Homo sapiens: one gene and its partners. The protein of the gene in region 4 purifies or fractionates together with the protein of the main gene of each other region. This does not show direct contact. Each region holds a gene or a part of one and is shown on either strand. Other genes may lie near its edges.

Region 1 (6,972 bases), on a different chromosome or scaffold from region 4:
AAGGTTCTGCCAGGACAAGATGAGCGGAAACCCACTTCCTGCTTTAAGCAAGAGACCTAACGCTACACTGCGAGGCCACTTCTCGATTCTGGTGCAGGTTACAAAGCTGTGTTTGGTTTAGAAAAATCCACGAAGCTGTGTAAGTATAATATATATATATATATTCTTCTGCCTGTATTATTATTATTATTTTTGAGACAGAGTCTTGCTCTGTCACCCAGACTGGAGTGCAGCGGCATGATCTCAGCTTACTGCAACCTCCACCTCCTGGGCTCAAGCAATCCTCCCACCTCAGCCTCCTGAGTGGCTGGGACAACAGGCACATGCCGCCACACCCAGCTAATTTTTGTATTTTTTGTACAGACGGGGTTTCGCCATGTTGTCCAGGCTGGTCTCGAACTCCTGAGCTGAAGTGATCCACCCACCTTGATATCCCAAAGTGCTGGGATTACAAAGAGCCACTGCACCCGGCCCGTATTTTCAATTTCAATAAAAAGCTAAGAATAAAAAGTGGTACTGGCTGTAATCGTAAATTACACCAGGTCTATTAGAAACCCCAGGACATGAAGGGACCCCAAGCATCCTGGGGGCTGTACCCCTTGGCCTCCCAGGCTGGCGCCACAGGACAGAGCGGACAAGACATTCTGTTTCACAGCCCTGAGCTCTAAAGGGAGAAAAGCAAGTTCTTGTTCTTAGGAAGTGAGCTCTGCCGGCCTCCTCCCTTCCATGGAGCTGTGTGAAAGGCAGCTGAAAGGAATGAACCAGCCACCTGCCTAAACCCAAGGGATTAACTGCTCTGCTGGGACATTTATGGAAGGGTGTGCAGAAAGCTGGGGCCAGTGTGGCCAGTTCTGGGAAGAAATTATCTGCTCAAAGCCACTGGTCAGACTTTCAGAAGAGGGGAGGGACACGGTCCCCAATCAACTTGGGGACAACCTTGGATTGGAAAGAGGCACAGATTCTGGCAGAACCCAGCAGAGGCTGGACTCAGAGCAGCAGGCTAAGGAAGCTGTGGCAACAGAATCCAGCAACTGTCCCACCTGACACCTCAGAGCCCCACTGGAACTCGGAGCACGTCCCAGAGTGGGCTCTCTCGCGAACATGCAAGGCTGGGCACAGCAGCTGTGACATCCCAGTCCCCACCTCCTTGCCTGATAACCGCCTCACACGCCTGCCTGGTGGGTTCTTTCCTTATATAGCAGTCACAGAGACCGCCCTTCCTCACCCCGACAAAGGAGGTAGCCTCGTGTTTGAACTGGGATTTATCTTTAATAAAAACCGTAGAAGCCCAAACTCAGGCGGACTGGGACCCGCCTACCATGACTCGGCAGTGTTTTGGGGTTTGGGCCAAGTAACTGGAAGAAAACCTCTTAACATGTGACCATGTTTACAGGCTCCGGGGAGTTCAGCCTAAACACCATGTGACCAGAGCACAGAGCCTAGGTGCAAGCCCAAGGGAACCTTGTCACCGGGTGACAAAGAGTGAGTCAGGGGGCCCGGTGTGGCTCAGCAGGGAGGGAGAAATTCCCCGGCTTGTGGGGAACAGATGCCTCACCGGGCGTCGGCCTCCTGCCCGTCCCTGGATTCCTTAAGGAGAAAAAGAAAGCACCCATTGTGCGGGGTGAATGCCCCAGTATCTTCCAACCAAGTGGGGAGGCACCTCCTGGGCACGGAGTTGGCTCAGCCTGGCAGCCCCGGCCGCACGGGGCACAGAGACCCACAAGCAGCTACTTGTCCCGGCTCACACAAGGGGCCCTTCTTCAAGGTTAAAAGTATCGCCCAGAGACATGTAGTCACCAGAGCCCCAGCTTGGACTCAGGTGCGCCCCTAGGATTCCAGGCTCTGTGCGCTTCCCCCGCGAATAGCTGGGCTCCCGTACCGGCGAGGTTCAACCCCAGAGAGCCTGCCCAGCCCCTGGCCCACTCACCCGTCACGTAGATGTCATTGCCCAGCGCCACGATGCTGTAGCCTCCGCCCAGGTGGTCTGGGAACTCGGCCAGGTAGCGCCACTGACCCGTCTGCGGGTTGTAGCAGTCGACAGTGACCAGCTCGTCACAGTCCTGGTCGCAGCCGCCCACGAGCACGAGGATCTCGGCGAGACCGGTGGACGGGCGAGGACGCATTCGGGGACAGGGCCCGCGGTCGTGGCGGTCGTAGCGCGCCGCCTGGAAGTCGCGCGCCTCGCGCAGCAGGCGCAGGCAGGGTGGGCAGCGCGCCACCAGCGGCTCGGCCTCGACGTGCGCCAACAGGTAGAAGCGGCGCACGAAGGGCAGGCGCACGGCCTCCAGCAGCTGCGGCCAGTGCGCGGCGCGGCGCGGCGGGTCAGCGCGGACCCAGCGCAGCGCCAGCTGGTAGGCGGCCTCCTCCTTGGGCACACACAGCCCGTCGTCCCGCAGGTAGCGCAGCAGGCGCGCCAGTGGCAGCCGCTCCAGCTGCTCGGCGCCCAGCTCGCCCACGTGGCGCAGAATGAACCGCTGCGCCGCGCTCGCCAGTCCCGAGCAGCTGAAGGCCTCAGCGAAGTCCTGCATGTCCAGGCAGTTGGCCAGGTCGAGCTGCTGCTGCAGGAAGGCCCCGCACGCCTCCTTCACGGCCGGGAACTGCAGCAGGTCGGCGGCGCGCAGCAGCGGCTCAGCGTTGTCGCCGCTTACCGCCACGCGGCCCGTGTAGCTGAAGTCCAGCAGCAGCTGCAGCATGTCGGGAGGCACTCCGTGCAGGCGCACCCGCTCGGCGCGGCTCTCGCGCAGCTGCCCCGCGAACATGGCGCGGAAGTAGGGGCTGGCGGCGGCCAGCACCGCACGGTGCGCCGGGAAGTCGCGCCCGCCCGCCGCCTCCAGGGTCACGTCCAGGAACTTGCGCTCGGCGCGCAGCTGGCTCAGGCCGCGCAGCAGGCTCAGGGCGTGCGCGGGGTCCGAGAAGGGAAGCACGGCCAGGGGCGCCGGTCGCTCCATGGCGCCTTCGATAGGTTGTCGAGGACGCCGCGGCCGGGGCCTGCGGAGAGACGCGGCGCGCTAGGCACCGCTGCTATAAATAGGGCGGGGCGCCGCGGCTCTCGAGGGGCGGGATGGGCGGGGAGACGTCTGCACCGCCCCCTTAACCCCTCTGTGCCGGGCGCCACCGCCCCCCGCGAGCGCGGGCTCGCCTGTCCCCCGCGCGGCGCCCGCCCCCGGCTCCGCAGGCTGAGTCACCGCTGTCCGCGGCCGGCTCCCTCCCTCCGCCCTTCTGCGTCTCCCCGCTGACGCCCGGGCCGGGGACAGCGAGTGACAAGTGCCAGGTCCGAGGGCGGCCTCGCCGCGCGCCGGGACCGGGGGCCTCCCGGGGTTGCCCACGACCCACCCGGCCCGGCTGCTGAACCCAACCCGGGAGAGGCGAGCTCGGCCCTGAAACCAAAGCCACCCCTCCTTTCACGCCAGACTTCCCAAGGGCGCCGGCCCAGGTCCCGGGGCGGCTGGGTACAATGGCTTTTTGTTTTGCTTTTGAGTTCCACTAGTTTCAAGGGTTGCTAGTTAACCCCATCACGGGACACACTCAAAGGATAGGCTTTTTACCATTCTGGACCAAAGCAAGAACGCGTATAAAGTTTTTCGGTGACGTTTTTTTCTTGGCGCATTTATAAGCGACCCGGGGCCGGATTCCAGGAGTCGGCCCCACTCCTGTGTTCCTGAAGGAGCTTCTGACTCAATCACACAGGCGTTAACTTTAGTCGGCTTCACGCGCAGTTGTAGTTTCCGAGTCTGCGTCGCAGCTGCAGGCTCCGGGGCTGCCCGCCCTAGGGGCTCCCGGGCCTCCCTGAAGCAGCTGCTCGGACTCCACGAGAGGGTAACTGGGTATAAAGAGCGAGGGCTCAAAGTCAGATAGGAGACCGCCTTGAAACTAGATGACGCCACTAAGCACAGTCCCGCCGTCACTTGTACTGCGGTGGGGAATGGTGAAAGAAGGAATCGCCCTTATTTTAGTTCCGATAGACACAGCACCACTTTGAATGTCACTTGTAGGGGAAAAAGAGCCCTCCCTTGGAGGCCATTTTTTCCTCAGTGGAAGGTAGGCTTTGCTCAGTTTTAGAAAAGACCCCTATTTCACCACCAGGACTGCTGCTTTGCAGAGAACACTTGGGTTTGTGCTGTTTTCCAGCCCCCCTACACCGGTGGGCCTTTGAGAACGCATTCCTGAGGAAGGCGCCCGCCCACGTGGGTCCCAGAGCAGGCCACGCGCATGGGAGCTGGCTATCATTTCCTGGTTCCAGCGAGGTCTAGGGCCGCGTAGCGTTTCCAGAAGACATTTTGTTTTTATTCCACCTCTGAAATGAGAACCGCAGGCTTTCTCTTCTACTTAAGAGTTTCACGTCATTTTGCCATAAGAATGCATCTGGTCTGAATTTCAGGGTGAGCATGGGCAGCACAGGCCCAAATCAGAAAACATTCAGGTACCCAGGCGGGCCGCCTGTTGCCCATAGAAGGACTGTTCACACAGCTATTCAAGGCAGCGGCAGCATTCCTGGGCCCAGGAGCAGGGCCAATAGCTTCCTTGCACAGGCTTTGTGACAAGAAAGGCTGAGTAGCCAGGAAGTGGAATGTTTGTAGGGAAAAGAACTCCCGTCCCCTGGGTCAGCTTACCCATCTTGCGTAAGTCCAGTGATTAAATCAATAATGTTTCCATAGTTGAGGATTGAGTACGGTTTTTCTGTATTCCCAATAACAGGGATTTTTAAACATCATATTTCAGTCTTACTATGTAGCCTTGAAGAATAATGATGTATTTATTGAAATGGAAAGATGTTTGAGCTATAAAGCGAAAAATCAGATTACTCATTGTATGACCCAAATTGATTTATATGTATTCATATGCCTAAAAAAATTTATTAAGTTAACATTTTCGGCCAGGCGCCGTGGCTCACGCCTGTAATCCCAGCACTTTGGGAGGCCGAGGTGGGTGGATCACCTGAGGTAGCGAGTTCGAGACCAGCCTGGCCAATATGGCGAAACCCTGTCTCTACTAAAAATAAAACAATTATAATTAGCTGGGTGCTGTGGCGCACGCCTGTAATCCCAGCTACGCGGAGGCTGAGGCTGGGGCAAGATTTCTTGAGGCCAGGAGTTTGAGACCAGCCTGGGCAACATAGTGGGACCCAATATTTTGTCTCAACAAAAAGTTTTCAAATTGGCCAGGCGTGGTGGCATGCACCTTTAGTCTCAGCTACTTGGGAGGCTGAAGTGGGAAGATCACATAAGCCCAGATGACAGTGAGCTGTCATTGTTCCACTGCTCCCACTCTGCCTGCCCCACCCCTGAAAAAAAGAAAGAGCTAAATAGCATGCCTGGGTTAGTAGGTTATTCAAAATTCCTAACACAGCTGATAGGTCTAAATCGGTTCCTTTCTTTTCTCACCACATTCCTTTGTTGAATTATCTATATATATACATGGTTTCACATGCCTGGTAGGCCCCGGTTATCAATGAAATACTTCTTTTCTCAAGATATGAATTCTTAATTTTACTTTGAACTTAAATTAACATTAACAGATAATGTACGTGTAGTACAGAAAGAGAATGCAGGCAAGCAAAAACAAAATGAACATAACCACCTAGATGACATGTTGTTTGTTTTTTGAGACGGAGTCTCACTCTGTAGTGCACTGGCACGATCTGAGCTCACTGCAACCTCTGCCTCCAGGTTCAAACACTTCAAGCTTGAACCCGGGAGGAGGAGGTTACAATGAGCTGAGATCACGCTACTGCACTCCAGCCTGGGCGACAGAGTGAGACTTCATCTCAAAAAAAAAAAAATTAAAATTACAAAAATGGCCATTGCCTAAGCAATTTAAGATAATGTGATTTACCTGAACATTCTGAGGCTACAAATTAAAAAGTGATTTAATGTGTGATGTGATTTAACAAATAGTTATTATTTTAAAAAACAACTTAATTTTGGTATTTAAATTCTAATTTAAGGCAGACAGAGCAAGAGGTGACTAAAATTACGTTACCTTTTTTTTCTTGAGACAGAGTCTCGCTGTGTCACCCAGGCTGCAGTGCAGTGGCGCGATCTCGGCTCACCGCAACCTCTGCCTCCCGGGTTAAAGCAATTCTCCTGCCTCAGCCTTCCTGAGTGGCTGGGATTACAGGCATGCACCACCACTCTTGGCTAATTTTGTATTTTTAGTAAAGATGGGGTTTCTCCATGTTGGTCAGGCTGGTCTCAAACTCCTGACCTCAGATGATCCACCCGCCTCGGCCTCCCAAAGTGCTGGGATTACAGGCATGAGCCACCTGGTCTGGCCATGTTACCTTTTTTATTGAGACAGGATCTCCCTCTGTTGCCCAGGCTGGAGTGCAGTGGCACAATCTCAGCTAACTGCAACCTCTGCCTCCCAGGCTCAGGTGATCCTCCTACCTCAGCCTCCCCAGGAGCTGGGACTACAGGCGTGAGCCAACACGCTTGGTTAATTTTTTAAATTTTTTGTAGAGACGGGGTTTCGCTGTGTTACCCAGGTTGGTCTTAAACTCCTGGACTCAAGCAATCCTCCAGTCTTGGTGCTGAGCCAAAGTGCTGAGATTACAGGCATCAGCCACCATGCCAGACCCTAAGGTCATTTTAAAAGTGGCTGTTTACAGCCTGGCCAACGTGGTGAAACTCCATCTCTACTAAAAATACAAAAATTAGCCAAGCGCGGTGGTGCACATCTATAATCCCAGCTACTCCAGAGGCTGAGGCAGGAGAATCGCTTTAACCCAGGAGGCGGAGGTCACAATGAGCTGAGATCATGGGACTCAAGCATGGAGGACAGAGCAAGACTCCGTCTCAAAAAAAAAAAAAAAAGAGCAGCTGTTATTCTTTTTTTTTCTTTAAGAATATTTAGGAACACACTCCTTAGCCTTGATTACGTCCACAGCTATTGTGCCTTTTCTTGTATCATATCATACACTCTGATTTTTTCAGATTCCAGGTTTTCTAAGGTATAATGCACTTACCATATATA
Region 2 (7,026 bases), on a different chromosome or scaffold from region 4:
TACTTGGGAGGCTGAGGCAGGAGAATCAGTTGAACCCGGGAGGTGGAGGTTGCAGTGAGCCAAGATTGTGCCATTGTACTCCAGCCTGGGCAACAAGAGCGAAACTCTGTCTTAAAAAACAAAAAAAAGACTGGAGTGGGGAAAGGTGGTGTAACTTCATGGGTCAGAGTGATCCACATTCCTTAGCTCTCCACAGCCATACATGCCCAATGTGGGTTAGGGGGCAAAAGAAGCTGGGTACTTGCATAGTTGCTGGATCTCCTAATAAGATGAAGAAGCTGTGCCTGTGGTATATCATGCTTTGTATCCTTCTATAATGCTACATAAAGAGTAGATTGCAGCCTATTGAATCTGATTGCCACTTTGAATCTGCAACTAGAGATGTGCTGCTACAAATTTACTTTGTAATTTAAAACTGACTTTCTAAATTGTCAAGTTTCTAAAATTATAGCTAAAGCAACCAATAGTAAGCCCATATGCTCAACAATTTTACCTGGATGTTCTTTTATAATGATCCTCATATAACCAACTAGTCCATATGTCCTACAGATCAAAAGAGGAATCTGGGAATTCCAGAGGACATCTGCTAAGCGTAGTGAAGTGCTGTTTAAAAAAAAAAAGCAAAATATGAACATAAGCAAATGGAAATATGCCAAACATGAAAACATGCAAAACATGAAAATGTCTTACAGCAACTTTCTTACTAAATAATAGATGCAAAGGTACATAACTGCATTTACATAAGCAGGTCAAGAACACACTGAAAAGCAAGCATTTCCACAGGCTGCAGTCTCAAAGAAAGTACATCTTTGGACAAGAGGGATGTGAAACTTTAGTCTGTCATATTAAGGAGAAACGTTAAAGAAAGATAATTCTAAACATTTCCATGATAGAGAAAAAATATAAAACCCACAAATACACCCCTAACAATTCCAATAACCAATTCTCTGTTGCCCAGGCTGGAGTGCAGTGGCATGATCATGGCTCACTGCAGCCTCGACCTCCCAGGCTCAAGTGATTCTCCCATCCCAGCCTCCTGAGTAGCTGGGACCACAAGCAGGCACACCATCTGGCTAAATTTTGTAGTTTTTGTAGACACAAGGTTTTGCCATGTTGCCCAGGTGGTCTTAAACTCCTGTGCTCAAGTGATCTGAACCTGTCTCAGCCTGGTTCTGCTGGAATTACAGGCATGAGTCACTGCACCCAGCCTTCAATAATCAATTCTAACTAGTTTTTAATCACTAAAACAAACAAAGAACAAAAACAACAACAACAAAAAAACAATGTTCGGTTTAACTGCTCTAAATATATTCCAAAAGTTTCACATCTAAGGTTAGGCTTGGTGGCTCCACAACTGTAATCCCAGGACTTTGGGTGGCTGAGGCAGGCAGATGACTTGGGGCCAGGAGTTTGAGATCAGCCTGGCCAACATGGTGAAACCCCGTCTCTACTACAAATACAAAAATTAGCCGGGCACGGTGGCACATGCCTATAATCCCAGCTATTTGGGAGACTGAGGCACGAGAGTTACCTGAACCCAGGAGGCAGAGGTTGCAGTGAGCTAAGATTGTGCCACTGCACTCCAGCCTGAGCAACAGAGCAAGACTCTGTCTAAAGAATAATAATAAAAAAAAAAGTTTCAGTATTTTTCTCTTCCTCATCTTTTCAATGCTGGAAGATTTCTAAGAATTTCTTTTATTTATTTATTTATTTATTTATTTTTTTTTTTTGAGACAGAGTCTAACTCTGTCACAAGGGCTGGAGTGTAGTGGCACGATCTTTGGCTCACTGCAACCTCCACCTCCCTGATTCAAGCGATTCTCTTGTCTCAGCTTCCCGAGTAGCTGGGACTATAGGCGTGAGCCACCACGCCCAGCTAATTTTTGTATTTTTAGTAGAGATGGGATTTCACCATGTTGGCCAGGATGGTCTCAATCTCCTGACCTCGTGATCCACCTGCCTCGGCCTCCCAAAGTGCTGGGATTACAGGCATGAGCCACCGTGCCCAGCCATAAATCTGAAACTCTTGACCAGGCACGTTGGCTCACACCTGTAATCCCAACACTTTGGGAGGCCGAGGAGGGTGCATTGCTTGAGCTCAGGAATTTGAGCTCAAGCTCAAAAAAAAAAAAAAAAAAAAAGTTTCATATTTAAAGTTTCTATAGAATTTAACAATTTTTAAAACCATATCATCATAGACTGTGCAAAGAAAATAAAACAATGCAAATCTAATAAGATTAAAATAAAAACATATTAACATAAAAATTTACCTTTCAGGAAGCTGAGTTGCAACTACAACAGTAAACCTACAGAAAAATGAGGGATCATTGTCTAGAAGGTTTTCTGGACTCTAAACAGGACAGCAAAGAAAAAAACAAACAAAAAAAACCAATTTCACAATCATATTAAACATGGCAGAGACAGTTAAGCTATTTTACAACAAATGAGGCAACAATTCCAATTCAACTAATCATAAATGACACAAAGATTCAAAATTCTAAATTTCTGGGGCTTTGAATTATTTAAAAAATTGTATTTCAGCACAGACATAATAATGTGTGTACATATATACCTCTTCCACAAAACTTCCAGAGACATCGCTATTTAATTCTTGTAAGAATTCCATGGCAGCTTCAGCTCGGTTCTTTTTAAAAACAAAGCATTTAACTTGAATTAGAAAAAACTTGGTCACAATATAATCCCCCAATTTATGGAACAGGCAAACATACTGTAAAACTATCCAAATTTCATGCATAAGTATGACAACTCTGTTTCCCTTCTTTTTTCTTTTTAGAGACAGGCTTTTGCTCTGTTGCCCAGTTTGTAGCATAGTGGCCTGATCATAGCTCACTGCAGCCTTGAACTCCTAGGCTTAAGCAATCTTCCTGCCTCAGCCTCCCAAGTAGGTGGGACTACAGGCATGTGCTACCATGCCCAGCTAATTTTTTAAAAAAATATTTTGTAGAGACAGGGTCTTGACATGTTGCCCAGGCTGGTCTTGAACTCCTGGTCTCAAGCAATCCTCCTGCCTTGACCTCCCAAAGTGCTGAGATTACAGGCGTGAGCCACTGCTCCCAGCCAATTCTGCTTCTCCTAGTGTTTAAGACTCAACAGAATATTACTTAAAACAGAGCAAAACCATCATCATCCAGAGTTCTCAAATGACATTACTTGTACTCTACTTTTTTGATTAGGCAAATGACCAAAAAACTCTGGGTAGCAGGCAGGGATATCCTGGATCAAGTTCAGACTCACTCTAACCACCCACATCTATAATCCTGTACAAGAGTGGTTAATCACTAAGCTAAAAGTCATTTCACTAAGTTGACTAACATGGTTTTGTAAGATTTTTTAGGCTGGGCGTGGTGGCTCATGCCTGTAATCTCAGCACTTTGGGAGGCTGAAGCGGGTGGATCACAAGGTCAGGAGATCGAGACCATCCTGGCTAACACGGTGAAATCCCATCTCTACTAAAAATACAAAAAATTAGCCAGGCGTGGTGGTGGGCGCCTGTAGTCTCAGCTACTCGGAAGACTGAGGGAGGAGAACGGCGTGAACCTGGGAGGTGGAGCTTGCAGTGAGTCGAGATCGCGCCACTGCACTCCAGCCTGGGGGACAGAGCGAGACTCCGTCTCAAAAAAAAAAAATTTGTTAACCAGAATGAATATTAACATTACTCAAGATTTAGCTTTAATACAGGATGCAATGTATAAACACAGACAGTACACCTCTAAGTTCTTAAACTACCAAACATATGAAGATTTACAAGATTACAAAAATTAGTTAACTTTTTTCTCAGAGAAATAATACACGTTTTTAAAGTCAAAGCTTTTCAAGCAATCAAAACACAGGGGCATCATTAGATGCTCACATCCAACTATATTCTCTAATTGTTTACCTTGCCGATACTGCTTCTTTGAAGGAAGAAACTAAAGTGAACAGAATAAAGGAAAAAAAAGTAAAGCTTACTGACTATAAAGGAAAAGTTGTTTGTAATAGCATGCATATTTCATTCACAGTATAAAACAAACTATATTGTGATTACAGACTGTAATGGCCTTCCTGGAGGAAGAAAATCAGATGGAACTTATAAAGAAAGATAGGCTAATAAATCAATGTTTCTTTCCCAAATTGTGTACCACAGCATGTGAATTTCACAAGATCCTCTGAGAGAAAAGGGTTCCTTGGCTAAAAACGTTTGGGAAACACCGGCGGGTGTGGTGGCTCATGCCTGTAATCCCAGCACTTTGGGAGGCCGAGGTGGGCGGATCACGAAGTCAGGAGATCGAGACCATCCTGGCTAATACAGTGAAACCCCGTCTCTATTAAAAATACAAAAAATTAGCCGGGCGTGGTGGCGGGCGCCTGTAGTCCCAGCTACTCGGAAGGCTGAGGTAGGAGAATGGCGTGAACCTGGGAGGCAGAGCTTGCAGTGAGCCGAGATTGCACCACGGCACTCCAGCCTGGGCGACAGAGAAAGACTCCGTCTCAAAAAAAAAAAAAAAAAGTTTGGGAAACACCATATACTATATTTCCCTCTTGGAAATTCATAATACACATAATACATGTGATACTAAAATCTTATGGTAAAGAAATTTTTACTTCATTTGATCCATTTCCCAAACTAATTTCACTATGGAACCCATTGGCCCATTTAACAGCTCTTATCGTTCCCTAGAACCGGTGTTCCACAGACCACTCTCGGTGTATTGAACCATTTGTTTTTGCACGTAACTGTAACAGATTTATTCAGGCTTCCTCCCACACATACCCTTGACATGTCTCAAGGCCCAGATATGAGGCTGCTGATCAGAGTCAGGATGCCACTTTTCGGTATAAGCTCACTGGCTCCATAAGAAGAAACCTTATTTTTATCACTTTCTACTCTAACCCACCAAGTAAGCAAAGATAACAAGACTTCTTGGTATATATCAATAAAAAAGCTGTGCTGTGCCTGGCAGAAACTGGCACTACGATCCAAAGAAAAGGCATCAAAACTAAATATGAACTAATTGCTGGTTTCCCTTATATTTACTCACTGTTGTTGTTACTGACAAACACAATGAGAGATACCAGACTTCAAGTCCCTGAAAAGGTGAGCTTTAAATCCAAATTTGGGCATGTTCTGAAAGTCTAAATATAATCTTTAAAGAATAATATACAGGCCATCTTTAAAACAGCATTTTTGTTGACACTGTAAAGAGAGATACCCCTAGACTAAGCCTAAAAGACATCACAAACAACAGGCATTATTGTTAATTATATGCTAACACCTACGGATCAATACAAGAGCTTAGGAAGTGCCCATATTCCATGAATAAAGGAATAACGACTACTCCTTTGTATTAATAACAATAAAGACAGTAATGATGGGTAACATTTATTAATGCCCTATTTGCCAGATGCTGTACTAGCACTTTACCTATATTATCTCACTTCCTCACCATAATCCCAAACATAAGGATGATTTCCACTGAGAGTCGAGTCACCCTGACTGAGGAGGTGAAGCTAAGACTCAGGCCTTGCCTTCCTTAACGTGAATATATTTGAAGAGAATAGAACATACTTGTTTCCAGCATCTTCTCCGCTGACCTGATTTCCATCAATAATTGTAAACGAACCAATACCTGAGAGCCAAAACAGAGTCAGTCAGGAATACATAGTTCTAGGTCATAAACTTAAAGAAGTATATTTAGAACACAACCACAAACCTACGTTACCTGGTAGTACCAAGTTTTTAAGAATTTCAGTTCCTGTGGCTGTTGCATTTATTAGGCAAACATGAGCAGATTCTAAAGCCTCTTGCCCATGATCACCCCACAACCTACAAAACAGACACAAATTTGATGTTTTTAAAACTTTCATGAAAATACAGCTTTCTTATTTGAATGGTGATCTTTAAACTTTCCTTGCATAGACTGATATGATAACCACAGAATACAGGTAAGACGGGAACAGATATTAGTATAGTGATTATACAGTAATCTAGAACTCAGGTTGATGCCTTGAATGGTTAGGGGAAAAGAGGGAGAGGGTCAAATTAGAAACAGAAACTTGGTCTTCCAGCCCCTTATCAGCCTGGGCACAAGAGCGACACTCTGTCTCAAAACAAACAAACAAACATTTAAAAAGCGTCTTTGGATTTAAACCCTCATCTGTTTTCTATTTCATTTATTCTTTGTTTTGTTTTGAGACAGAGTCTTGCTCTGTCACCCAGGCTGGAGTGTAGTGGCATGATCTCAGCTCACTTGGCCTCCCAAAATGCTGGGATTACAGGTGTGAGCCACCGTGCCCAGCCCTATTTCATTTATTCTTAAATTATGTTAGATGTGCCAGGTGCAGTGGCTCACACCTGTAATCCCAACACTTTGGGAGGCCAAGGCAGGCGGATCACGAGGTCAGGAGATCGAGACCATCGTGACTAACATGGTGAAACCCTGTCTCTACTAAAAAATACAAAAAATTAGCTGGGCGTGGTGGCAGGCGCCTGTAGTCCCACCTACTCGGAGGCTGAGGCAGAAGAATGGCGTGAACCCAGGAGGCGGAGCTTGAAGTGAGCCGAGATTGCGCCACTGCACTCCAGCCTGGGCGACAGAGCGAGACTCCGTCTCAAAAAAAAAAAAAATTATATTAGATGCATTTAAGTTAAGTTAGATGCATTTAAGATCTCGACATAGGGCTTATTACTGTGACTTCTGCAAAAGCTTTACCAAGAAAACTGAATTATCATCTGAAAAGCCTCACATCAACTTCTACAGGAGTGCTTTAAAGTATATTACCCAATGAACATTCTAATAGAGTGATTAATGTGCCTTCCCTGTTACCTGATTTAAAGCAGATTACCCCTTATTATGTAGTCAGTATGTCCTCCAGAGCATGTCAAGCAACTGCCTTGTTTTTTGTTTTTGTTTTTGATACAGGGTCTTACTATGTTATCCAGACTGGTCTTGAACTCCTGGGTTCAAGCATTTCTCTCGCCTCAGCCTCTAGAGTTGCTGGGACTACAGGCACAAGCCACTGTACCTG
Region 3 (7,026 bases), on a different chromosome or scaffold from region 4:
GTTGTTTTATAATCATGCATATTTCCTATAAAAAAATTTTTATGCTTTAAAGCCTGCTTTTCATAATAGACCATTTCTTGTAAATTACTTCGCTATAGAGTTATTTCAGGCTATAAAGCAAAAGATATATAATAAGTAGAGTTCTGGAAGTTAGAAAATGTATGGGTGACTTTGTTCAAATTTCTAACCAATAATATTTAAAAATCAAAATATGCATGATCAAAAATGTGTTCTTAATACTACTAACCTTTCTTTCTGCTTCAAATGTGTATGTATACAGCCCATCTACATCATTAAACACCAAGTAATTATTCAAGGGAATGTATGCACTGTAATGAAAAAATGTTCATCTTTATATAATTAAACCAAGTCAAAACATAAATTTACATGCATATTAAAAATGAAACCTATTACCTTGTGGCTATTTTAAAAACCTCAGTGGCACACACAGCTGAAGGGAGGAGAAAATACAGGTGCTTTAACTCAATGGAAATTAGGCATGTTAAAAGTCAGTTATAAATCAGAACAGATAAATTTACATTGGCTCTTCATTAAAAAATACATATTCCAATTTTTAAAAACTGAGACAGTAACAAATTTTACATTGTTTTGTGTGATTCATGTAATAGAGTAACACTACATGTTTTTCTTGTTTATCAGATTAATAAATGGCCTGCTTCATATGGAACTAAAACGTCTCTTTACTGCAGGTAACTTAAGACATAATGTAAGACAAAAAATATGCAAAGTCTAATAACTGGTTCTTTTTCGACAGCTTAGTTACACAACCCATCCAAGAAGATATCAAATTCCTACAACACAAAAAAGCTGCAGCAACGTCAAAAACTAAAGAAAGCAAAATAAACTAAGTGATGGCCTTTTCTTCCTCACCTGCAATGACTGCATTTGTGGAAGCTACTGCAGGAATGATTCTTTTTACTACCCCTGAAAAAACATATCAATTAAAATATGGTCATTTCTTTAAAATAAAAGAGTTCTCTTAAATTAGAAGGCATGATTATTAAATACCATTTTCTAAAACTTGATTTTTCAGACTTTCAAGCCAGAAAATAAATTTAACCATGAAACAATCTTTCACATCCCCATCACTTTGTAGTAAATTCAGAATCTTAAGCTACAGTAGCAAAGAAAACTCTCTCAAGTAAGTGCTATAGAAAGGTGAAACAATAACATCATAATAGTTAACAATTTAGAGTATTATGTTCCAGGCACAATGTAAAGACTAAATATTATTTAATTTTCACAACATCTTCATGTTAATTACTCTGATTTTAAACATAAGAAAAGTGAGACTGAGAGAAATTTAGTAATTTATCCACAGCTATATACTTAGCAAGAGGTGGGGTTGGCATATGAACACAGATATTAACTGATACACCATGAAGAATAAGTGTTATCTAATTATTCCTGTAACAGCTTCAGTCACTTGATTCACAAACATTCAAAAAAAAGAAAAGCTGCCCTTTATTATCTTTTACTCTACAACCGAGGCTACACAAAATATTAAATACAGTTCTCTACTTCAACCCCACATTTTTCTTTTTTTTTTTTTTTTTTTGAGACAGAGTCTCGCTCTGTCGCCCAGGCTGGAGTGCAGTGTCGTGATCTGATCTCGGCTCACTGCAAGCTCCGCCTTCTGGGTTCACGCCATTCTCCTGCCTCAGCCTCCCAAGTAGCTGGGACTACAGGGGCCCGCCACCACGCCTGGCTAATTTTTTGTATTTTTAGTAGAGATGGGGTTTCACCGTGTTAGCCACGATGGTCTCGATATCCTGACCTTGTGATCCGCCCGCCCTGGCCTCCCAAAGTGCTGGGACTCACATTTTTCACATCAGTATTATTCACATATTAGGAATAAACAAAGCCTCACCTTAAACCATTTTTTAAAAGTACAAAATAAATACTCCATTTTATAACTATATTTGAATTGTTCATTTTAGAAGACAAAAACTTCAAGAAAAAGTAGCCATTTTATCTCACAGTGTGAGGAAACACTGTAAGATGTGTTCCCAAGACTCCAAGTATAGTCAGGTTTCAAAAACTTAAGGAAAAACAGCAAGTAGCTAAGAAGACATGAAAGAAAGACAGTTACGAAGGCTGGAAAGCTTTTTTAAAAAGTTGACTGTGACCATATGATTCTCTATAGTTTTGGAGAAGAGGAAATTTAAAAAGAGATAAACTGCATGATGGTTAAACTGGAAGCTCTCCACTGAACCACATGTAGCAGGATGTACTGAAAGGAGGAAGTGGTAGACACAAACAGTGAAGCGTGTAAGAGACACTGCCCAGTAAGAACATTGCCAAAATGATGAGGACTCCCCTCTTTCTCCAACCCCTGCCACCCATACCCCTGCCCTTCGACCAAAAAAAGCTAGAGTGGGCAGAAAGGCAACTTTCTGTTATACTGAGAACAAGGGGAAAAATCATAGAATAGATAGAACCACTGGCTTGTGCAACTTCACTTCCAATTCTCCTTCTGTACTCCTTGTTGAGGCCCTCATTCACCAGCCTAGAAAGTACACACCAAGCCCTGGTAAAAGGTAAAGAAGGATGGATGAGACTACATATTAAAATGGGGAGTTTACAGTTTCTGGTTAGAACACACTGAATTCGTTTGTTAATTCTAACAATTAGCAAATATGTGTAACACATGCTCCAGACACTGTTCTAGGTGTTGTGCATAGTAACAATGAAAAAAAGTATCTGCTCGTATAGTGATTTCATTTTGATAGGGGAGATAACACAAAAGTAAATACTTGGAACACCTCAGATATTGAAGAGTTCTATGAAGAAAATGAGGTATGTGTTAGACTGAGAATGATGGATGCAGTCCATTAGAGAGAATGGTCAGGGAAGGCCTCCTTGGAGAGGTGATAACTTGAGCTGAAACCTAAGCCATGAGAGAGATCCAGCCATGCAATTACCTGAAGAAAAAGCTGTTTGTAAACAGCAATGGCAATGGTCCTGGTCCTGGGGCAAGGATGTAAGATAGTTTAAGTGTGAAATATTCTTTGCATAGGAGAATGAGGCTACCATTAATCAGTTCTGAGCAATTACCAAAAAAAATAGAATGGTGAATGGCTCAGAAGTCATTTTAGGTTGAATGATTAGGAAAACTGGTTAAGCAGACACCTAAGAGATGAGGAGCCAGCCTGAGGGGATCCAAGGAAACACCATCCCCGGCGTAGGAACTCGGGAGTATTAAAGCTCTAAGGTACAGAAGAACTTGGTGTGTTCAAGGAACACAAAGCAGGTCCGTGTAGGGAGAATGCAGAGGGCAACAAGGAGTAAGTATAAATGGAATTTTAAAATGACATTACTAGATCAGTAAATGTAAGGAAATAATCACAGGAGAGAAATGGCAGATTTTCAAAAAGAAGACAAAGCTCATTCTGGTGAACCTGGTAATGATCTTGGGCAAAATTCTAAAAAAGGAAACTATAACTAGATTGGAAACATTGATCACTATGATTGAGCATGACTGGTTACTAGACAAATCATGTTGGAGTAGCCTCATTTGGCTACTATGACTAACTTAGCAACTCAGGAAAATGCAAAAGATAGCATACCTAGGCTTCAGTAGAGGATCTGGAAAGGTTTTTCATGACATCCTTGTGAACAAGATAAAGAAATACAAAGTACCAAGAAGGTCTGATGAACAGAATGAGATAAACCTAAAAGGGCCTGGCCAGAAGTATGATTCAGATGTCTGTTCTCAGAGAGTTCAGTCTTATTAAAAATTTTCATCAATTATTTGAAAAAGAAATAAAGGATATAATTATCAAAACAGGTGAAATGAAGCTAGAAACACCAGGTAAGTTGGCAGAATACATATAAAGAGAGAAAAACAGGTTGAATTTTAAGAATACATTTGTAAGGACCTATACTTGGATATTAAGAAAAACAAAAAAAAAAAGACACTCCCCAAACTGCCAAGTTTATAATAGGCAGATGTGGCTTAGCAATTGCATATGTGGACAAAACATCCAGCTTTCAGTGGCTAGTAACATCAAAGAATCCAAAGTATAGCATCAATGTAAACAAAAAAACAACAACATAAATACCTGCTCTCCTTTAAGACTGCATCAGTTATCAGAAGTCTATTATCTAAAGTTAAGACCAGTCCCATAATGCTGCATGTTGGCCTGAACAATTAGGAAAAGTTGTTTTCTCTAACTATATTCCAGTTAACCAATATGGATAGCTGGAATATGGTTACAGAAAAACAACATGAGAACCTGAAGCTGTACAACATATCAAAGGGTTGGATATAGTTTGGATATCTGTCCCCTCCAAATCTCATACTGAAATGTGATCCCCAGTGTTGGAGGTGAGGCCTAGTGGGAGGTGTTTGGACCGTTAGGGCAGATCCCACATGCATGGCTTGGTGCCCTCCCTGTGATATTAAGTTCACGCAAGAGCTGGTTATTAAAAGAAGCCTGGTATTCCCTCCTCTCTCTCTTGCTCCCTCTCGTCATATGACATGCCTTGCCATCCCCCTTAGCTTTCACGAGTAAAAGCTTCCTGAGGTCTCACCAGAAGCCAAGCAGATGCTTTTGCCATGCTCACACAGCCTGCAGAACCATGAGCCAAATAAACCTCTTTCCTGAATAAATTACCCAGTTTCAGATATTCCTTTATAGCAAAGCAAAATGAACTAATACAGGGTTAAAGGAACTAACTAGGGAGGTTTATGGCACTGATAAAAATTTGCAAAGGATGTGATCACTGTCCTCAATATGTTAAAAGCTATTACTTAAAAGGGAATTAGACTGTATACAGTACTGGGACAACAGTCAGACCAAACTGAAGACGATTTCTATTTTGAGACGAAGTTTTGCTCTTGTTGCCCAGGCTGGAAAGCAGTGGCGCAATCTCAGGCTCACTGCAACCTCAGCCTCCTGGGTTCAAGTGATTCTCCTGCCTCAGCTTCCTGAGTAGCTGGGATTACAGGCATGTGCCACCACACCCAGCTAATTTTGTATTTTTAGTAGAGACAGGGTGTTGCCATGTTGGTCAGACTGCTCTCGAACTCCTGACCTCAGGTGATCCGCCTGCCTCGGCCTCCCGAAGTGCTAGGATTGCAGGTATAAGCCACCGCAGCTGACCTGAAGACAATTTCTGTTCAATATATAGAATATTTGTCTAACAGTCCTGTCCAAATGTGAAATAGACTGTCTCTAAGAGATGATGAATTCAGTGGAAGATAAAATGGACAGTTTGACTTGGATGACTTATAGCCTAAGTAAGTAAGATTCAATAATTTTATTAAATTCCCCCTAGCTAATAAGTAGTATGAATTACATGGTACCTTTACTGAACTTCAAGTGGATGGTACTGTCTAAACTCACTTATCGATTATTCTCCTGAAAGCATCCCAGCCCTAAGTCATCCCAACATCATAATTCATGACAATTTGCTGACTTACCTTGAGTGAGCCTATACGTAACACCCCTAATATTATATTGTGATGCTCTCTCTAGGGATTTTTGGAAAATCCATTGTATATGTTCAGGATCATCTCCATCTAATGGAACCCCTTCTGTTTAAAAAAAAAAAGGGAGAGAGAGAGAGAGAGAAGACAGGAATACGTAATCACAAAACAATGTTTTTAATGAAATTATCCAAAGGAATAATATAGAAAAAATATGTATTTTATGTAATTCTAGATTATTAAATTAGGTTTATTACCTCCAAAAGGCTGCTCCTTAGGCCACTGCAACATCCTTACATACTCAATACAGTGTTCTGGTAGCCTGGGCATAGATGCAATGGTGCACATGGGAAAATTAACCTAAAACCACAGTTTGTCCTTTTCAGTGAATTTTAAACGAATTATTTTAAAATGCAACTTCCAGTTATGATCTAGTTCTTAACAATTTCATACAATTTGTTTCAACTCAAAATATTGTATACCATTAAAAATGCCTCTCAAACTATAATACAGATTAACTGAGTCACTTCACTTAGGCTGCACTGCCTGTAAAGACAGGTTTGCCCTACATTTACAAGGTATAAAATTTAAGCTTTGTTAGACTATGAGAAGAAAAATACTGAACAGATTTTCTCAAATATGAACACCTTGTTATTTTTACCTAATATTTAAGTATAAAGCAAACCAAAACAAAAGCAAGTTCAGAGTTAAGTGAATCCCAAGTGAATACTCATAAAATTGTTTACATTTATTATTCAAAATTTCAAGTGTTCTTTAAAGTGGATATGTAAACCAAAAAGCCCCATCCTTGGAAAGATCATTCTTATCCCTGGTATCTTTATTTCCCTGAAATAAATACAGGTGAAAACCACATAGATTACAGCTTGACATCAATATACAACTTTGTAATTCTACTTGATACCTACTCCCCAAATAAAAAATACAAATAAATTATGAAAGCAGAATAGTATCAAAACAATGTACTCGGTTCATATCTTTCCTCAAATAGAGCAGAATTTCATATTTTATCTTTCTTCTTAGTGTAATTTTTAAAATACGGCCACTTCTAATTAACAATCCTAAATATTAACTAGACTTAATAATTAATCCCTAATTCCATGCCAAGATACTATAAAAGAAATGCAGGTGCTTTTTTGATTACCTGTGGTGGATAAAGTTCCAGCGTGCATTCGATACAAGCAGTCATTCCAGGCAGAATCACCCGGGCATTTCCTTTAAAACCTTCTGTCCCCCCATCTATCAAAGGGACAATGGAGCTTGGATCTAAGACACCATCTTCATAATTTAGAAGAGATATCTAGGAAAACAATTTGAAGGGCTTTAAAGGAGAAGGGGATAAGAATTCAAAAGAAGAAGTATGCTTTCAAGTAATCCTATGAGTCGGTTGTGCTATTGAATACCAATGTATCAAATCAAGGGATTATAATAACAATTTGTGTCTTCACCTGAAAACCAATGACTGGCAATAAACAATGAAGTAAATATACTTAATTAAAAATTAAACTCTGATTTTTCAAAAATATATCAATTCTAATTTTGGGGATGTGAAG
Region 4 (7,026 bases):
CTGGAGATTAAATTTACTCTTAAAAATGGAAATACAGGAATTTTAAAGTAAAAAGAAAAGGTCTGTTCTAAAAGTTCTTTCACAAATATATATATTTAAATATTAAAATAGGCTACCTAGGATTTTTATAAAATGGCTTTTGAAAAGATAGTAGAGGCACAAAGAAGCCATATACTATCCTCCAAGTTGGACATAAGGTGCCACAAGGCTGCCCTACAAAGAGGCAGGCAATCTCTACCTGATGCAACGGGAGGCACCAGTAAACAACAGAAACATTAAATACATTATTGGGAACTTGGACCAAAACCAAATTTTACTCTATTAGGGACCGTTGCTTTTTTAAAAAATACCTTGAGATATAAGCATTAGAAGTCATCACTTTGTACAAGGAAGAAAATGAATACAGTTTATGATCTTACTCCTTCCAAATACCTGATGTCACTCATTTCAGGTACCTGAAAGATGAAAAGCAGTGCAACTTTCAACAATTTAATGGACTACTCTCATTATGAGAGACTTTACACAGCATCTGTCAACTTGAAAATTAAATTGGTAACTGAAATAAAAAATCGCCTAGAGAAAACACACATAAGCTAATCCTAGAAAAGGCTCTCCTTAGAAAGCAGGTGTTTCTAAGAACTGCAGGAAAGGCTTCCCATCTTGAACACAGCTTCCACTAATACCAAGGGAAACGTGCATTAAGAGGAGAGATGACAGGGCTCCCTTAAAGCAGGAAGATTTATCCTTCCTCAGCAGGTGATGTACTTTGGTAACCTCAACATTCATTTATGGGATGATTTTTCATCTGTTTTATTGAATAATGAAATCTAAATGTGGCTAGATTGGCATTTGGGAAAACAAGGGCCTTTTAATAAAAGTCCTGACACTGGAGCTCCTCCCACCACTAGGCACCAATTTTATCAGTATATCGCCACAACCGTGCCTGGGACTTTAAGCTTCATCAGCAACATCAGTCAATTTAAACGAGAAAGGAACTAATAAAAGAATTTGACTTTATAAACCAGGTACTTTGAACAAAAACTAAAAATTTTAAAGTTAAAAAAAGTTTTGTTTTTAATCCGCAGTCCTTACTCTTAAGTTCTCTGTAAACTATTATGCACACAGAAACCTTGGTATTAGCTGAAGCCGGCCTGGGTCTTGCACAGTGGGGGTTTACTTAAGTAAAAGTAGCACAAACATTTCAAAGACAATCTCAATTTTTCAGATACTGCCAAACCGAGATACCAATAACATCTGAAATCTTTGCAGAGACTATTTATAAAAACATGGAAGTGTTTTTATTTTCCCATCATAAAAATATAATCACGATAGAGTGGAAATGTCTAACTGTATTAGTTTAGTAAAAAGTTAAAAAAAAGTATGACCACTGATGGTACTGGTACTACAAGTCTTCATCCCATAACTGACACAGGCTTAACCCCCCATAAATATTACAACATCTCAACTTATCTATCGTCTAAAATGAAACATCCAGAGAGCGACTGTTCTTAGTTGAGCCTGGGATTGAATCAATTCCACTTTATTGTTTAATCTGAACCATTATTGCTTTTGGCTAATTCATCTTGCTGAGGACTTTCCAAATAAAAATACTCTGTCACCATACTGTCAAGCAAAAACGACAATGAAAGATAAAAATGGGTATAGGCAAAATAAGGAACAACTTAATTTAAATGTTCATAGTTTGAGTTTAAAGCCTGTGGGAGTATGCTTAGTTTTAATATTCCTCATAGACATGTTTGCCACAACAGAGCTTCCTTGTTACCCCAATTTTGTTTCACTGCTTCAGAAAAGAAAATTTAGCTTTTATACATTCATCTCTCAATAACTTTCAAAATCTAAATATATTACAAATAAAGCATCTTACGTCAATAACTTACTTACAGTGAAAACTACATTTATTTATTACCTTCTGGCAACTTTGGGTCTGTTTCTTCTAACTGTAAACTTCACACTAGTTTTTTTTTCCCAGTTAGTATTAATATTTAGAAAATTTTTAATTCTCATTCACTTGGATGTGTATTTCAGAATTACAGCTTCATACTTTGCAGATGACTGAAACAAAGTAACATATGAAAGTTTCTAATTCTTTTGTTCATTCCACAAATCTCAAACTTCAGCTAAAATATTAAAATTTTAGGATTATTCATTCAAGTAATAAGTCTCTGTTACAGAATTGCCACATTATACAGTAATGTATTTTTCAAGGACTATTAAAGCTAAAAGGGACTAAAACATAATCTGAGAATCTTCAAGAATAAAAGCTGATAAAATAGATAACTGGCCTCTATTTAGATTAAGAGAAAAAATTAGAAATAAAAGACTGAAAGATTTAATACAGCTTCCAAAGGCTCCCAAGAGAACCATTTATAAACTGGGAGAGTCTCCTGAACCAGCCTATTAGTTAGAAGGTAACTGAGTTACCAATAATTATGGACATCAGATGTATTGACTAGTCTATTTCATTTGGCAAAGTATTTTAACAAGATGAAAGTTTTTTTTTTTTTTTTTTTTTGCTAGTTATTAAGAACAAAGGGCATGTGTCGTAACAGGGGATCTAATTACTGTAAGCCAGAATGATTGCTGAAATGTCAAAATGTAAGATTGAATGAGGCTATTTAAACATTTTAGTATATTTTGTCTTACTGAAATTGATAAAAAAAAAAAACTGGCAATGTAACTAAATGCGTAACTAATTACTTGAAATAAAAAGATTACTTGAAATTCAAATTAAGAAAAATCCATTTAAATATATTTGTGGGTGATAATCTCCATCTGCATCCATTTATATAAAACTTAAAATGCCAAAAAATAAAGACCAATATTAATCTCTTTATTTCTGAATGAGATGAAATCACTGACATGTTTGATGCTTCCACTATTAGAATATACCCTTTAAACACGAAAAGAACAACTGCAGGAGCTTTAACATCCATTATCATGGGTGAACATCTTTGTTTACTTCTAAAGTACATCACACCTATTTGGTAGTTAAAAAACTGAAAATAAAAGCTTGTACAAAATGCTTGGTTTTAAAAAGGCAATTTATTCTGCATTCTGAAATTTAAGCCCTTTAGATACCACAAAGTTACCCTCCTGGCCTTAAGAAAGATAGCTACGTTTAAGCACTCTAAACTGGAATATTTATGTTTAGTTACACTGGTAATTTCTAATGAATGGGATAATATAACTGGCTATCTCTTTGCAATATTTTCAATATGTCCTGGTAAAAATTATGCATCTAGGCATCCCTAAGATGAATTTGAAATAAACCTAAATACTACTATATATACAATTATCCCTTGCAAATCTGTTTCCTAAAACAGATCCATAAACAGATCCAATATCCTTAAAGTACATATATATCAAGAAAAATGTACCCTCACTGAAATAGAAAAAGGCCTTTATTTGTATCATTTTATGTTAAATACTGGTTAGTTACTGGTATTGATAAGATCTGGGCAGCAGACAACTAACCAGATATGCATTTTCACAGTATATTCAGATTTCCCATAAAACTTGGCAATGTGTATTACCAGTGAAAATCTAAAGTTTCTACTTGGGAAGGAATACCCAGTGATGGGTAATCCCTCATTCTGAGAACACAGTCAGAATATCTTGGAGCTACCAACATTGTGCTTGGCTCTTAATGCGAAGTTTTCAGGGTTGGGGATGTGCTAAAAACACTTTTAACCAATCAATCTGCAAACCATTCTTACACGTTTCTCTTCTTTATTCTTCTTTCCTTCTTTTCTTTTTTCTTTCCTCTTGCTCTTTCAAAAACCACCTCTTGGAACTAAGGGTAACAATGATTCCTGGTCATAATTTTACCTATTCTTGTCAATACAGATTTTAAAATTAATTTTGAGATTTATCTATTGCTAGGCCTAACAGTTTTCAAAGACCACAACGTAACATTAAAATTCCTGACCTTTCCAGTTGAGACACAGCAGTACTATATGAAGTATTATAGTCTGCTGCAGAAAGTAATGCAACCCTATCAGTGAAGAAGCATAAATGGTGGGAGCCTATCATAACCTGTATATGCTGATTCTCCTGAAGGGAACACACCTATGTTTGGCAGCAAATGGGTAAAAACAAGTTCATGAGTGAGGTAAAGAGTTGAAAACAAGTTAAGGACTGCAGAATATGGGCAGACACAGAGAATCTTAACCTAAAACAGTTCTAAGGAATTTAATTTACTTTTCCTTTCTTCACATGTTTTTGGGGAAAAAATTACAGAATTAGCCAATCTAAAAAAATGAAACAAATCACTATAATTAAAAATATATACATTTAGTATGGTCTAGCACCTGAACAAAATTCAGATCTTGTGTTTTGACTAAAGAACTGTATTTTCTGTCTATCAAATCAGGTGCTCTCATAATTATTAAACTTTGGGTATCTACACAGAAACTTATTCCAAAGTTCACTGCTCATGGACTTACAAATATTTAGGATCAATATTAGAGATGCTTTAATGGCACCAGATGAAAAGTATACCCAAGTCTAGAGGATCATACAAATTTCAACTACAGACCAGAAAGTTTCATATTTTTAGCAGCAGAAATAATATTCATTAGTTTAAGGTTTTCAGTTTCTCATTAGTCTTAATAATTTTTTTCTCCCAGATTTATGAGTCATAGATGAAAATCTTACAGTCTATACTCTTCATTGTTGCCTACGTTGTGTAAAAACTATAGTTAACTGTTTTTAATAACTTTGCAATGTCTAAAAATAAATATGTAAGGACAATGTATCGCTGTCATATGGGATTCAGTAAACAATCTAGTTGGGTTAAGAATGCAGCCTTGGCCGGTGCAGTGATCCCAGCAGTCTGGGAGGCCAAAGGAGGAGGATCACTTGGTCTAGGAGTTCAAGACCAGCCTGGGCACCATAGTGAGACCTCATCTCTACAAAAAATAAAAATGAAGTTAACCAGGTGTGGTGGAGCATGCCTATAATCCTAGATACTCAAGAGGCTGAGGCAGGAGAATGGCCTGAGCCCAGGAGTTCGAAGCTGCAGTGAGCTATGACTTAGCCACTATACTCCAGCCTGGGCAACAGAGTGAGATGCCATTCTTTTAAAAAAAAAGAAAAAAAAAAAGAATGTAGCCTCAATAGAGAATTATTTATTATGTCCAAAAGAGCACAATGAAAACATCCCCAACAACACATAAACCTATATATAAAATATAGAATATCTCCAGTATTTTTACTTTATATGGCAGCACGCCAATATATGCAAGAGAACATATTGATGGGGCAGGGGGAAAACTGATCCGGGCAATGACACAGTCAGGCATTACATTCGGAGACCAGGTAAACAGCAATTTTAATCTGAAAAGCAGTATGAGAAGAGTTCCTATGAAGCTGGGATTTACATACTTCATTCTCCGTTCCTGGTCATTTCATCCACAGCTTGACTGTTGTCAATCATGGTTCCTTGCCTTTGGAGTGGTACTATAAAGGTACAGAGAATGCCCATCTCAGTACCAAAATTTCACCATGAAAAATCATAACAGAAATGACAAAGCTTAAAGAAAAGTACGCCGGATTTCAGAAGTATTTACCATAATAATTTTTAAGAAAGCTTACCATAAATACTTCCAAAAACAACAGGCTTTACAAAATATTATACAACATCCTGTGTACAGCAGTAAGTATCTACTCAGGCCATTTGTCAAGCTGTTTAGTAATTAGTTTCTCATGTACCCTCTTGTCTCAAGAAGGTCAATAATCATCTGATTTCCTCTCTAGCTAATGATCTGTTGTTAGCCTACTTTTAACAATGGAAGAAGGAACTGGTATATGTTTTAAGTCAACCAGTTCTCCTTAAGTCTCATAGTTTCTGTTTCAACATCATGTTATTGTGTACTTACAGAAGCAATCTCTCAGTTAGGAAAAATAAAATCAGTTTCAGGGCTCAGAAAGTAAAAAGGGAAATTCTTTCCCAATCTCCCCCTCCCTCCCACCCGGCTTTTTTTGTTTAAAAAATTAAATTAAATTTAAATGTACAAGACCAAGCACAGGCACTTTCCAAAAAACAAAACTGAAGCCAAATCACAAAACTACTCAATAGTTATAGAAGACAGCTCTGATTTTGGGGGGTCATCTCTGGTTGCCTCAGCACAAGCACTGCTCTTTGGCTGCTCTGGCACTTCTTCCTCTTTTTCTGCCAGCCCACCAAGAGACCCCAAGGGAAAAGTGCTTTCACAATTCTGGGTTGAGGAGACCTGTGAAATGACAGGCATTTGAACAGAGGAGTTGCTTTCAAAACCGTGTTCTCCAAGATCATATTGAACAAGGGTCTCTTCTTGTTCCTGGTTTAAGTAGTCCGGTACTAGGAAATCACTAGATAAGAGGCAAAGGATGAAATATGGAATTAATTTTCAAACCAGTAATAGATAAGCAACAGTAAAAAGCTCTGATTTATACAACAAAATTGGGACTCTTCATTTCACTAATTGTTCAGTGAAGATTAAAACTCAGGAACTTTCAACTTATAAACTTTCCTAAATATGAACCAAAACATCCATTAAAACCAAAATGTATCAATCTTCCCCACCACCAATACATCAGGTTAATTATCACTTTCATTATAACTCTGGACACCTTAACAGCCTTTCTTGTTCTATGTAGAGGAGTTTCTATATACAAAACAAATGTAGCATGCTCACTTAAACAAAGATCATCTGAGTAACTTTAATGCTAAACTTTTCTTGATTATACATTGAGTAAGAGATATATAAACCTAGCTTTGTATTACTAAACTTGACATAGGTTAGTTAAGAAACTAAGTCCTTATGCATAAATGACCTGATACATAATCTACTATAAAGTTGGGAAATGTAGAAAGTAATTTATGTGTATCCTGCTATTACATTTGGTATATGAAAATACTAATAAAGAATTTGGAAATGAATGCCTTGAGATTGGTTATGTGATAATCCTCAAAACGTGTTCAATTATTGGTCCCCACAGGCAACATGGACAGTAAAATATACT

Evidence for each region.
Region 1: the proteins of ZBTB44 (region 4) and KLHL21 purify together in Homo sapiens (affinity purification with mass spectrometry; 2 studies listed by BioGRID and IntAct, with this or other methods). This does not show direct contact.
Region 2: the proteins of ZBTB44 (region 4) and NAE1 purify together in Homo sapiens (affinity purification with mass spectrometry; 2 studies listed by BioGRID and IntAct, with this or other methods). This does not show direct contact.
Region 3: the proteins of ZBTB44 (region 4) and UBA3 purify together in Homo sapiens (affinity purification with mass spectrometry; 2 studies listed by BioGRID and IntAct, with this or other methods). This does not show direct contact.

The regions. Positions count from the first base shown.
Region 1 is NC_000001.11:6,599,870-6,606,841, forward strand, and holds the start of KLHL21 (kelch-like protein 21), read right to left. Parts: upstream 3,001-6,972; 5' UTR 2,949-3,000; coding exon 1,928-2,948; intron 1-1,927. UniProt on the Homo sapiens protein: Substrate-specific adapter of a BCR (BTB-CUL3-RBX1) E3 ubiquitin-protein ligase complex required for efficient chromosome alignment and cytokinesis.
Region 2 is NC_000016.10:66,820,957-66,827,982, forward strand, and holds part of NAE1 (NEDD8-activating enzyme E1 regulatory subunit), read right to left. Parts: coding exon of another isoform or gene 7,024-7,026; intron 5,825-7,023; coding exon 5,721-5,824; coding exon of another isoform or gene 5,712-5,720; intron 5,628-5,711; coding exon 5,567-5,627; intron 3,930-5,566; coding exon 3,899-3,929; intron 2,645-3,898; coding exon 2,573-2,644; intron 2,351-2,572; coding exon 2,271-2,350; intron 604-2,270; coding exon 494-603; intron 1-493. UniProt on the Homo sapiens protein: Regulatory subunit of the dimeric UBA3-NAE1 E1 enzyme. E1 activates NEDD8 by first adenylating its C-terminal glycine residue with ATP, thereafter linking this residue to the side chain of the catalytic cysteine, yielding a NEDD8-UBA3 thioester and free AMP.
Region 3 is NC_000003.12:69,056,365-69,063,390, forward strand, and holds part of UBA3 (NEDD8-activating enzyme E1 catalytic subunit), read right to left. Parts: intron 6,774-7,026; coding exon 6,618-6,773; intron 5,816-6,617; coding exon 5,713-5,815; intron 5,564-5,712; coding exon 5,450-5,563; intron 946-5,449; coding exon 892-945; intron 452-891; coding exon 415-451; intron 330-414; coding exon 248-329; intron 1-247. UniProt on the Homo sapiens protein: Catalytic subunit of the dimeric UBA3-NAE1 E1 enzyme. E1 activates NEDD8 by first adenylating its C-terminal glycine residue with ATP, thereafter linking this residue to the side chain of the catalytic cysteine, yielding a NEDD8-UBA3 thioester and free AMP.
Region 4 is NC_000011.10:130,227,902-130,234,927, forward strand, and holds part of ZBTB44 (zinc finger and BTB domain-containing protein 44), read right to left. Parts: intron 6,373-7,026; coding exon 6,255-6,372; coding exon of another isoform or gene 6,090-6,254; exon of another isoform or gene 5,482-6,089; coding exon 5,455-5,481; coding exon of another isoform or gene 5,408-5,454; 3' UTR 5,407-5,407; exon of another isoform or gene 3,815-5,406; 3' UTR 1-3,814. UniProt on the Homo sapiens protein: May be involved in transcriptional regulation.